Regions from separate parts of the Homo sapiens genome. Here regions 1, 3 and 4 are each linked to region 2. The links come from fine-mapping of genetic effects on gene expression. A gene starts in region 2. Each other region holds a variant in brackets. All regions are shown on one strand. Distances are between the middles of the regions.

The links.
Region 1: its variant is fine-mapped to the expression of MYRFL in unexposed skin (GTEx, PIP above 0.99). The same link has a PIP of 0.9 or more in sun-exposed skin.
Region 3: its variant is fine-mapped to the expression of MYRFL in tibial artery (GTEx, PIP above 0.99).
Region 4: its variant is fine-mapped to the expression of MYRFL in aorta (GTEx, PIP 0.97).

What each region holds. Positions count from the first base shown.
Region 1 is chr12:69,935,635-69,938,250 of GRCh38, reverse strand. MYRFL (myelin regulatory factor like) reads right to left here. Exons shown (of 25, transcript NM_182530.3): 17 at 2,064-2,138; 18 at 1,916-1,968; 19 at 1,619-1,798. Among named protein-coding and RNA genes, the nearest start is that of MYRFL, 110 kb to the right of the region's middle. The variant T/C (reference allele first, on the strand shown) is at 1,559.
Region 2 is chr12:69,824,147-69,826,762 of GRCh38, reverse strand. MYRFL (myelin regulatory factor like) reads right to left here and starts at 1,536. Exons shown (of 25, transcript NM_182530.3): 1 at 1,200-1,536. The coding sequence starts at 1,245.
Region 3 is chr12:69,971,158-69,973,773 of GRCh38, reverse strand. No RefSeq gene overlaps it. Among named protein-coding and RNA genes, the nearest start is that of MYRFL, 150 kb to the right of the region's middle. The variant A/T (reference allele first, on the strand shown) is at 981.
Region 4 is chr12:69,940,625-69,943,240 of GRCh38, reverse strand. The region is part of intron 19 of MYRFL (myelin regulatory factor like); the gene reads right to left. Among named protein-coding and RNA genes, the nearest start is that of MYRFL, 120 kb to the right of the region's middle. The variant T/A (reference allele first, on the strand shown) is at 1,406.

The DNA of each region.
Region 1 (2,616 bases), 110 kb before region 2:
CAGCCACAAGGTTCCATGTGCTTTCACAAGGGATAAAAGCCTTGGGGATTTCTGTGATAGTTCTAGATTTTTTCATATTTAAAAATATTGAGAATAAGATGACTGAAATGAATTCCTTTCTTTAAAATGAAGTTTTTAGTTCTACTCCATAGTGATGCATCTGCTCCTAAGTTCAATCAAAAATAGTTTTCATGAGAAAAGCTCATTGTCTCCTATTGCTGTAGTGAAAGAACTCTCTGTGTCTCAGCTTCCCCACTGGAAAAAAAAATTGGGATAATAAAAGCACCTCGTTTGTAGGCTTGTGAAGATTAAATGATTTACTCATGTAAACTACTTATGACAGTACCTAGCGTAGAGTAATACCTCATTACAACATGATAATCATGATGATGATGACAATTTGTAAAAGTTATTTAACCAAGACTAGGATATGCAATAATGTCAAAAGGGAAAGGAAATTACATTGCACCCCAACATTTCAACCACTGACCATATTCTATGTAGGTCATGAGCACCACTTATAAGTATTCTGGTTCATCTTCTCCATACATGTTAGATCTGTTCTTCCCCATCCGTTTAAAAATTAGACATGACCAATGTGACGTGACTTGCTTTGGCCAATGAAGTATAAGCAGAGGTGATATGTGTTATACATAGGTGGAAGCTTTAAGAGTCGGAACATAATTTGCCTTGTTCTTTTACCACTACTACGGAGACTGTGGAAATAATTATTGTGATGGAATCTTCATCAGCTGGACTTTAAATGACATGATGACCAAGAACTGTCTTTTGATTCACATTTAATATATAGAGTGACTCAGAATTAAATTGTTGCCATAAAGAAGCCACTGTTATTTAAGAGTTGTTGTTATGACAGTATCCTAATCAATAAGCCATAGTAATATGTATCCTTATTAGCATCATCATTAATATTACTATTTATTAATATGTATATATAGAATAAAATTTCTAAAAACAATAATAAATTAGTATACATTTGGAAGACTTGTATGTAATCTTATGGATATGATTACACTTGCAGCCCTTGATTAAGTTTCTATACTTTTTTTTACCATGAAAATTGTGTTACTTGAATAACATTGGTATGTATGTATGTGTGTGTGTGTCCCTAGGAGGAAGAGGAAAGTTATTCTGAAAGTGGAATGCCAGTCTTGTGTTTTTCACTGCCTTAAATCTCACCCTGAACTCTAAATTAGAGTTTCCAAAGTCTCTTACATTTTGCCCTAGTCAGTTTAGGCAGAGAGCCCAGATACCACATCATTTTTTAAACTCTAAATGAGCCCAAAAAATCCACCCACGTGCATGTAATTACTTCGCTTGTGCTACTATTACTATCCTTGTTGGCAATGGACAAATGAGAACCTTTCACTTGGTGAAAATTATAAGTACTTGAATCAACCAAAATTTCATTCCTGGGCAAGGAACTCAATATTACAGATGATTGGCAGTTGTGTATTTGTGTTTTAAAGATTTTGCCACCCCAAATAGAAGCATGGAACCATTATCTGGAACCATTAATGACCATCTAAGTAAATTG[T/C]GACAAGAAAAACAACCTCAAGTTCAAAGCTCTAGTTGTTTCTCTTTGAACATCATTTACCTGACCATCGCCTCTGATGGAATTCCTTCTCCTCAGATTGTCTTTGCACAGGACTTGAAGAGACTTCTTTCATTCCCCGGATGGGGCAGCAATAAGTCTCCTGACACGGCAGGATTTCACAGAAAGTAATTTCAGGTACTTGTAAGGAGGCCGGTGTGGTTACCAGGGATGTATTAGGTGCTGCAAGGCATTGGGCAGGGGGGAGGGGAAGCAAGAAGGTTAACCTGAAAGGCTGGTTTCTTCTGTTAACAGTTCACTTGAAACCGGGTTTGAGGGTGAGGAATGTGAAGCCTTTACCTGAGGAGGAGGCTGTGGGCAGCAGAGCTGGCTCCTGTGAGCTTGTGATATTGCTGGAGAAAAAGAATGAAATGATTAATGAAAGAGGGCTGCAAAAATCCTTCTCTCCAAAGGAATTTTAGGCCAGAAAATTGAACTGAACTCTCACCTTGGAGGGAGATTTGGGACACGTCGGTCTTGATCTTTTAAGCTAAGTATATAGAGGGCAACTATCGTCAAAGCACTGTCAAAAAAAAAAAAAAAAAAAAAAAAAAAAACATTATGTGGCAGATTTGTTTCCAGATATATCTCACACATCCAGCTGGCCAGAGATGTACTCTCACAGGCCACACAGATGGGAGCAGGGGGGAGGGGATGGCCACGGCTGACAGAAACACCATGGAAACCAGCACAGTTATGCTTTTCTGCCCTGGAGAGAAAAAGAGCTCAGAGGCTCCTAGGTATTCCATGCTGATGGATTTTTCCACATAGAGCAGCCCCCCAGCCCTGGCAAGCTGTCTCAGAGGTGCCTGTCACTAGTGGAAGATTACAAGAGGAAGCATGTAAGTTGCTGGAGGCAACTGCTCCTTGCAGGAAAGAGTCAGAGCACAGTTTGCGTGCCACCGGTGGAGGGCATTGGCACTGTCGCATTGGGAGATGGAAGGCGGCACAGGTCTAGTCAGCTGTGGATGCCAAACCCTCTGGCTGCTTCTCTGACATCT
Region 2 (2,616 bases):
GAAGTCTACCACCTTTTCCAACTATTCACAGATAATGTAAGAAAAACACTGAAGACAAATACTTTTATAATAATGATCAGATAATTGTAACAAGCTGTAGAGGGGACTTGTAGAAACTATATCCATAGAAACCTCCAAAAATAGTATAAACAAGGACAGTATAGGGATCCCATAGAAATAAAAGCTCTTTCAAAAAACAGAAGGTAGACCAAATTCGATATTCAGGTCTTCCCTAGCTCTAGAAGGAAATGGAGTAGATTTTTGCATGTATACAATAAATTGCTGGTTTCTCTAAAATAGATGCAATGGTAGATTGAAGCTTGCCACCTGCTGCTCAAACGAAAATTATATATGATATAAAATCAGGCAATAACAGTCTAGCAACACTAGTGTGCCTACCATGTGCCAAGCATGACCCAGGTAGACAATACCAACTTGGCCACTGTCAGAGACAGAACACTCAATGGGATGGATGGTAGGACAAGATAATGTGATAATTCTCTTGGTCTTATGTTTCTTCTTGCCATTTCTGGAAAAACCCAAGCCACAGAAACTACCCCATGGTGTTGATTCCTCCCAATAGTGACATAGAATCTCACTATTTCTTTGGTACGCCCCGTCACTCTTTAGTGTTCAGCATTGTTTACTATTCAGCCCATTCCATTCAACTTTTAAATATATATTATTTGTCAGGCACTTTACAAAGCACAAGAAATACCTAAAGCACTTTTCTCGATGTGCTGCTGACTGATCCCTAGATTCTGTAAATGAGCAGGTCTTCCCTCACTTCTTCTCATACTCCCTCATGCAAAATACCTTACCGTGTAAAAATGATGGTCACGTTTCCCTTCACATGGAATTTGAGCATGGCTATGTAGTTTTTTTAAACATAGGGCATGGGAAAAAATAAAATCTAGTACAGGACAGGGACAAGTAATAACAACATAAATATGCTGACCCCTTGATTCTAACAACCAAACTATAAGATGAAAATCCTGTTTTGTTTAAAATCTCTATCCATACCATTGAATTTTGCTCCCAATGTAGCAAATAAACCCCTACTTTTGATATTAGGAGAGTTACCTAAGTATGATAGCATTTCTTTCAAAACAAAGTTTAAGTGAATACGGAAAAGGTGAAACAGGGATAGTGAGCATTTCTCAGAAGCAGCAAATTCATGCTGGAAATTGGCCTCTTACCTTCAAAGAACTGCTGCAGGGCCTCATTTTCGCCTACCACATCCATGGTACTGTGATCCTAGTACTATTTCCTCATAAAACAACGGTTATCAGACCTCAGGAAATAAGTACTGTCCTTTTGATTCGAAGCCTACGAATGCTCTTGAAAAATCTTCATTTTCTTTTTATTGGAGTGAAGCATATCTTCAGCCATCAAATTGTGCCCAGAAAGATGGTTGAGTTTTCAAATGTGATTATAAAACTGGAAGGATATACAACCATACATTTAAAAAAAATTCATGAAGAGGGAAGAGGTAGCAAATTCATCTGTCTTAATATAAGGAACTGTTTCTACTCTGCTTTTCGTCTTTAAGGACCTTTGTCCTTAGTGACACATGCAATTACATAAATGGGCAATAAATACATAGTCTTATCTCATATTTGTCCTTTTACACCAATATATTTATATCTCCACCTTTATCAACTAGATCCACTTAGCTACCACCAATAAAACATACTTATTTTTTTAACCTAGAAAAAAGGGATAAATCAATATAATTACTTTTATAGATACCTATCATCACAGGTAATTTTAAAAGGCTTGTGATAATGAAAAGTTAGAATTTGTTAAGTATTTCCAAACTTACAGCAAAAACTTAAATTCCTTAATACATACCTGTTCCATTTCCTCTAGAGCTTATTTGCTTCCAAAGCATAAACCATAAAGTATGAGAAGTCTCTCTAACAAGCAACGAAAACTGCATTACCAATTTAATAATTCTTACAGTTGAGTCACTAGTAACTTGATTCACTCCTAAATATAAAACCATACCCGAATAAATGTTTTGTTTTCACTGCTTAGCTATAATTCATTTAACAATAGCCTAAGAAAATACAATTAGGAAATTAAATTATCCTTTCGCCCCTTCCTTTTCTTTTTTCCCAACTATTTGGAAAAAAAATAGTATCATAAAATATCCATATACTCTTCATCTACACTTACCAATTATTGACACTCTCTCATATATATATATATATACACATACATATATATACATATATATATACATATATACATATATATATGAGACAGAGTGGTAGCAGTGGATATGGATATGTGTGTGGATATGGATATGTGTGTGGAAGGATATGGATATATATATATCCATATATAGTTTGTTTATATATATATCCATATAGTTTTTATATATATAGTTTATTTCTAATTTTTATGGATACACAATAGTTGTACATATTTATGGGGTACATATATTTTGATACAAACATACAATGTGTAATGATCAAATCAGGGTAATTGGGGTATCCATCACCTCAAACATTTATCATTTATCATTTATGTTGGGAACATTCCAAATCCACTCCTTTATTGTGAAATATAAATTATTGTTAACTGTATTTACCCTATTGTGCTACCAAA
Region 3 (2,616 bases), 150 kb before region 2:
AAAGGCAATGCTGCCCTTGGAACTGTTGGAAATACCAAAGAACAATTGCAGATCAAGAGCAGCAGTGAGTGTGGAGACATACACTCACACTTACCATAATAGAATAGAAACTAGAGGGTTTGTGTTCACTTATCAGCTCCACTACTTCCCAACTTATAACATTTGCCTACTCACCAACTAGTAAATATCTGCTACATAGTGAAAGCTCCAAAACTGTTGGTTAATGAATGTTGAAATCACTTAAGCTTTTTGGGCTTCTCTGGCTCCATATTAAAAATAAGGAGATTGGCCAGGTGCAGTGGCTCATGCCTGCAATCCCAGCACTTTGGAAGGCCGAGGTGGGTGGATCACTGGAGCTCAGGAGTTTGAGACCAGTCTGGGCAACTCAGCGAAGCCCCGTCTCTACCAAAATTACAAAAATGAGCCAGCACACACCTGTGGTCCCAGCTACTAAGGAGGCTGAGATGGGAGAATCGCTGGAGCCTGGGAAGTCAAGGCTGCAGTGAGCCAAGGTCCCACCACTGCACTCTAGCCTGGGTGACAGAGTGAGATCCTCTCTCAAAAAATAAAAATAAGGAGATTGGACTATCCAATTGGTAATAAGGATAGGCACTGATACTTATTGAACACTTAATATATGTGGGGGACTGTTGTGAATTAATGAAATGTATTGTCACAAAAAACATGTTATCTCCTTTTAACATACAAGGAAATCAAAGCACAGAGAGGTTGGGTAACTAGCCCCACATCACACATTTGGTCAGGCAGAACCAGGATTCAAAACTCCAGAATCCATGTGTTTTCCCAGTATGTTTTTGTCAACTTCCAGCTTATGCTATTATAATGATTCCCACTTTGTTACCTGCTCATTATCAATAAGATGTTTAATCTCTTACTCTGACTCTATATATACTGCCTGTATTACTTCCCAGAGATTAGTCCTCTGTGTATCCATCAATACTTGAGCCTTCAAACATCGA[A/T]GAAAAGCTTGTATTTATAATTCAAATAAGAGAAACTAGACATTTTATATCTACTTGTGGATAGTATAAAGTGGAGAGGGATAGCAAGAATGTTGGATGACAATCACCACCTAAACATACTGACAAGCAACATAAAAGAACCCATCTAACAAGATATGGGGAATGGGAAAAAATGCAGTGGTGTGCTGATGAAGAAGCTCTCTGAAAACAAAAACCCTGATTTGGAGCATCTTCCTGAGAAGCGTTATGGGCCAAGATGTACGCAGAGGAGGCACAGTTGTGTGGGAGAAAAATCACAGGACGCGGATTCAGATGTCTGAGAGTAAGTCGTACCTGCTGTGCAACCCGAAGCAAGTCTGTTTACCTCATGGAACCTGCCTCTACTGCTGGAAGTGGGGATGTGTCAGGTACCTCACAGGCTTGTCATGAGGACTGAGTGAGATGACATAGGAAAACACTTGCCAAACTTGAAAGTCTTGCTCCTCAGGGTGTGTCTCATGCCAGCAGCATCAACAGCATCCAGGACTTTGTTGGAAAGGCACGTTCTCAGGCCCCACCCCAGACCCACTGAAATAGAGTCTGCATTTCCACAAGATCACCAGGTGATTGTGTGCACATTAACGTTTGAGAAGCCCTATTCTAAAGAACCAAACAAATGTAGTGTGTTGAAATTTTGGACTTTTTTCATATTCTGCCAAGGAAATACATCATGGCCAAATTTAAAGAAATGGGCCCCCAGCACTTTGGGAGGCCGAGGCGGGTGGATCACGAGGTCAGGAGATCGAGACCATCCTGGCTAACACGGTGAAACCCCGTCTCTACTAAAAATACAAAAAATTAGCTGGGCAAGGTGGTGGGCACCTGTAGTCCCAGCTACGTGGGAGGCTGAGGTAAGAGAATGGTGTGAACCCGGGAGGTGGAGCTTGCAGTGAGCCGAGATCGCACCACTGCACTCCAGCCTGGGCAACAGAGTGGGACTCCGTCTCAAAAAAAAAAAAGAAAAGAAAAGAAAAGAAAGAAATGGGCCCCTCTCAGAGTTTTCCATAATCCTCCTTCCCTGGGTCCTGATGAGCTCCCTAGGTTTTGGGGAGCAGATGCCCATCATGTGGCCAAGTGGGTTATTCCTGGAGAGCAGTTCCCTTTGCTCAGGAATGGACCACTTGAGAAAGTCATTGCCTAATAAAATCCCTTATTGTTTTCAAGGGAAGACAACCAATAAAATGCAAGCCTACTGATATGGTATGGCTGTGTCTCATCATGAATTGCAGTTTCCATAATCCCCACGGGTGGTGAGAGGGACTGGTGGGGGCTAATTGAATCATGGGGGTGGTTACCCTCATGCTGTTCTCGGGATAGTGCGTGAGTTCTTATGAGATCTGATAGTTTTTATAAAGGGCTTTTCCCCCTTTGCTCCGCACTTCTCTCTCTTGCCACCTTGTGAAAAAGGACATCTTGGCTTCCCCTTCTGCCATGATTGTAAGTTTCCTGAGGCCTCCCCAGCCATGCGCAACTGTGAGTCAATTGAACCTCTTTCCTTTATAAATTACCCAGTCTCGGGTATGTCCTTATAGCAGCATGAGAATGAACGATTAACACATCTACATATACAAAACTGTCTCAACCCCGGGAAAGATTG
Region 4 (2,616 bases), 120 kb before region 2:
TTGGCTTAGGATTAACTTGGCGATGCGGGCTGTTTTTTCGTTCCATATGAACTTTAAAGTAGTTTTTTCCAATTCTGTGAAGAAAGGCATTGGTAGCTTGATGGGGATGGCATTGAATCTGTAAATTACCCTGGGCAGTATGGCCATTTTCATGATATTGATTCTTCCTATCCATGAGCATGGAATGTTCTTCCATTTGTTTGTATACTCTTTTATTTCCTTGAGCAGCGGTTTGTAGTTCTTCTTGAAGAGGTCCTTCACATCCCTTGTAAGTTGGATTCCTAGGTATTTTATTCTCTTTGAAGCAATTGTGAATGGGAGTTCACTCATGATTTGGCTGTTTGTCTGTTGTTGGTGTATAGGAATACTTGTGATTTTTGCACATTGATTTTGTAGCCTGAGACTTTGCTGAAGTTGCTTATCAGCTTAAGGAGATTTTGGGCTGAGACAATGGGGTTTTCTAGATATACAATCATGTCATCTGCAAACAGGGACAATTTGACTTCCTCTTTTCCTATTTGAATACCCTTTATTTCCTTCTCCTGCCTAATTGCCCTGGCCAGAACTTCCAACACTATGTTGAATAGGACTGGTGAGAGAGGGCATCCCTGTCTTGTGCCAGTTTTCAAAGGGAATGCTTCCAGTTTTTGCCCATTCAGTATGATATTGGCTGCGGGTTTGTCATAGATAGCTCTTATTATTTTGAAATATGTCCCATCAATACCTAATTTATTGAGAGTTTTTAGCATGAAAAGTTGTTGAATTTTGTCAAAGGCCTTTTCTGCATCTATTGAGATAATCATGTGGTTTTTGTCTTTGGCTCTGTTTATATGCTGGATTACATTTATTGATTTGCATATATTGAACCAGCCTTGCATCCCAGGGATGAAGCCCACTTGATCATGGTGGATAAGCTTTTTGATGTGCTGCTGGATTCGGTTTGCCAGTATTTTATTGAGGATTTTTGCATCAGTGTTCATCAAGGATATTGGTCTAAAATTCTCTTTTTTGGTTGTGTCTCTGCCCGGCTTTGGTATCAGAATGATGCTGGCCTCATAAAATGAGTTAGGGAGGATTCCCTCTTTTTCTATTGATTGGAATAGTTTCAGAAGGAATGGTACCAGTTCCTCCTTGTACCTCTGGTAGAATTCGGCTGTGAATCCATCTGGTCCTGGACTCTTTTTGGTTGGTAAGCTATTGATTATTGCCACAATTTCAGATCCTGTTATTGGTCTATTCAGAGATTCAGCTTCTTCCTGGTTTAGTCTTGGGAGAGTGTATGTGTCCAGGAATTTATCCATTTCTTCTAGATTTTCTAGTTTATTTGCGTAGAGGTGTTTGTAGTATTCTCTGATGGTAGTTTGTATTTCTGTGGGATCGGTGGTGATATCCCCTTTATCATTTT[T/A]TATTGCATCTATTTGATTCTTCTGTCTTTTTTTCTTTATTAGTCTTGCTAGCGGTCTATCAATTTTGTTGATCCTTTCAAAAAACCAGCTCCTGGATTCATTAATTTTTTGAAGGGTTTTTTGTGTCTCTATTTCCTTCAGTTCTGCTCTGATTTCAGTTATTTCTTGCCTTCTGCTAGCTTTTGAATGTGTTTGCTCTTGCTTTTCTAGTTCTTTTAATTGTGATGTTAGGGTGTCAATTTTGGATCTTTCCTGCTTTCTCTTGTGGGCATTTAGTGCTATAAATTTCCCTCTACACACTGCTTTGAATGCGTCCCAGAGATTCTGGTATGTTGTGTCTTTGTTCTCGTTGGTTTCAAAGAACATCTTTATTTCTGCCTTCATTTCGTTATGTACCCAGTAGTCATTCAGGAGCAGGTTGTTCAGTTTCCATGTAGTTGAGCGGTTTTGAGTGAGATTCTTAATCCTGAGTTCTAGTTTGATTGCACTGTGGTCTGAGAGATAGTTTGTTATAATTTGTGTTCTTTTACATTTGCTGAGGAGAGCTTTACTTCCAACTATGTGGTCAATTTTGGAATAGGTGTGGTGTGGTGCTGAAAAAAATGTATATTCTGTTGATTTGGGGTGGAGAGTTCTGTAGATGTCTATGAGGTCCGCTTGGTGCAGAGCTGAGTTCAATTCCTGGGTATCCTTGTTGACTTTCTGTCTCATTGATCTGTCTAATGTTGACAGTGGGGTGTTAAAGTCTCCCATTATTAATATGTGGGAGTCTAAGTCTCTTTGTAGGTCACTCAGGACTTGCTTTATGAATCTGGGTGCTCCTGTATTGGGTGCATATATATTTAGGATAGTTAGCTCTTCTTGTTGAATTGATCCCTTTACCATTATGTAATGGCCTTCTTTGTCTCTTTTGATCTTTGTTGGTTTAAAGTCTGTTTTATCAGAGACTAGGATTGCAACCCCTGCCTTTTTTTGTTTTCCATTTGCTTGGTAGATCTTCCTCCATCCTTTTATTTTGAGCCTATGTGTGTCTCTGCACATGAGATGGGTTTCCTGAATACAGCACACTGATGGGTCTTGACTCTTTATCCAATTTGCCAGTCTGTGTCTTTTAATTGGAGCATTTAGTCCATTTACATTTAAAGTTAATAGTGTTATGTATGAATTTGATCCTGTCATTATGATGTTAGCTGGTTATTTTGCTCGTTAG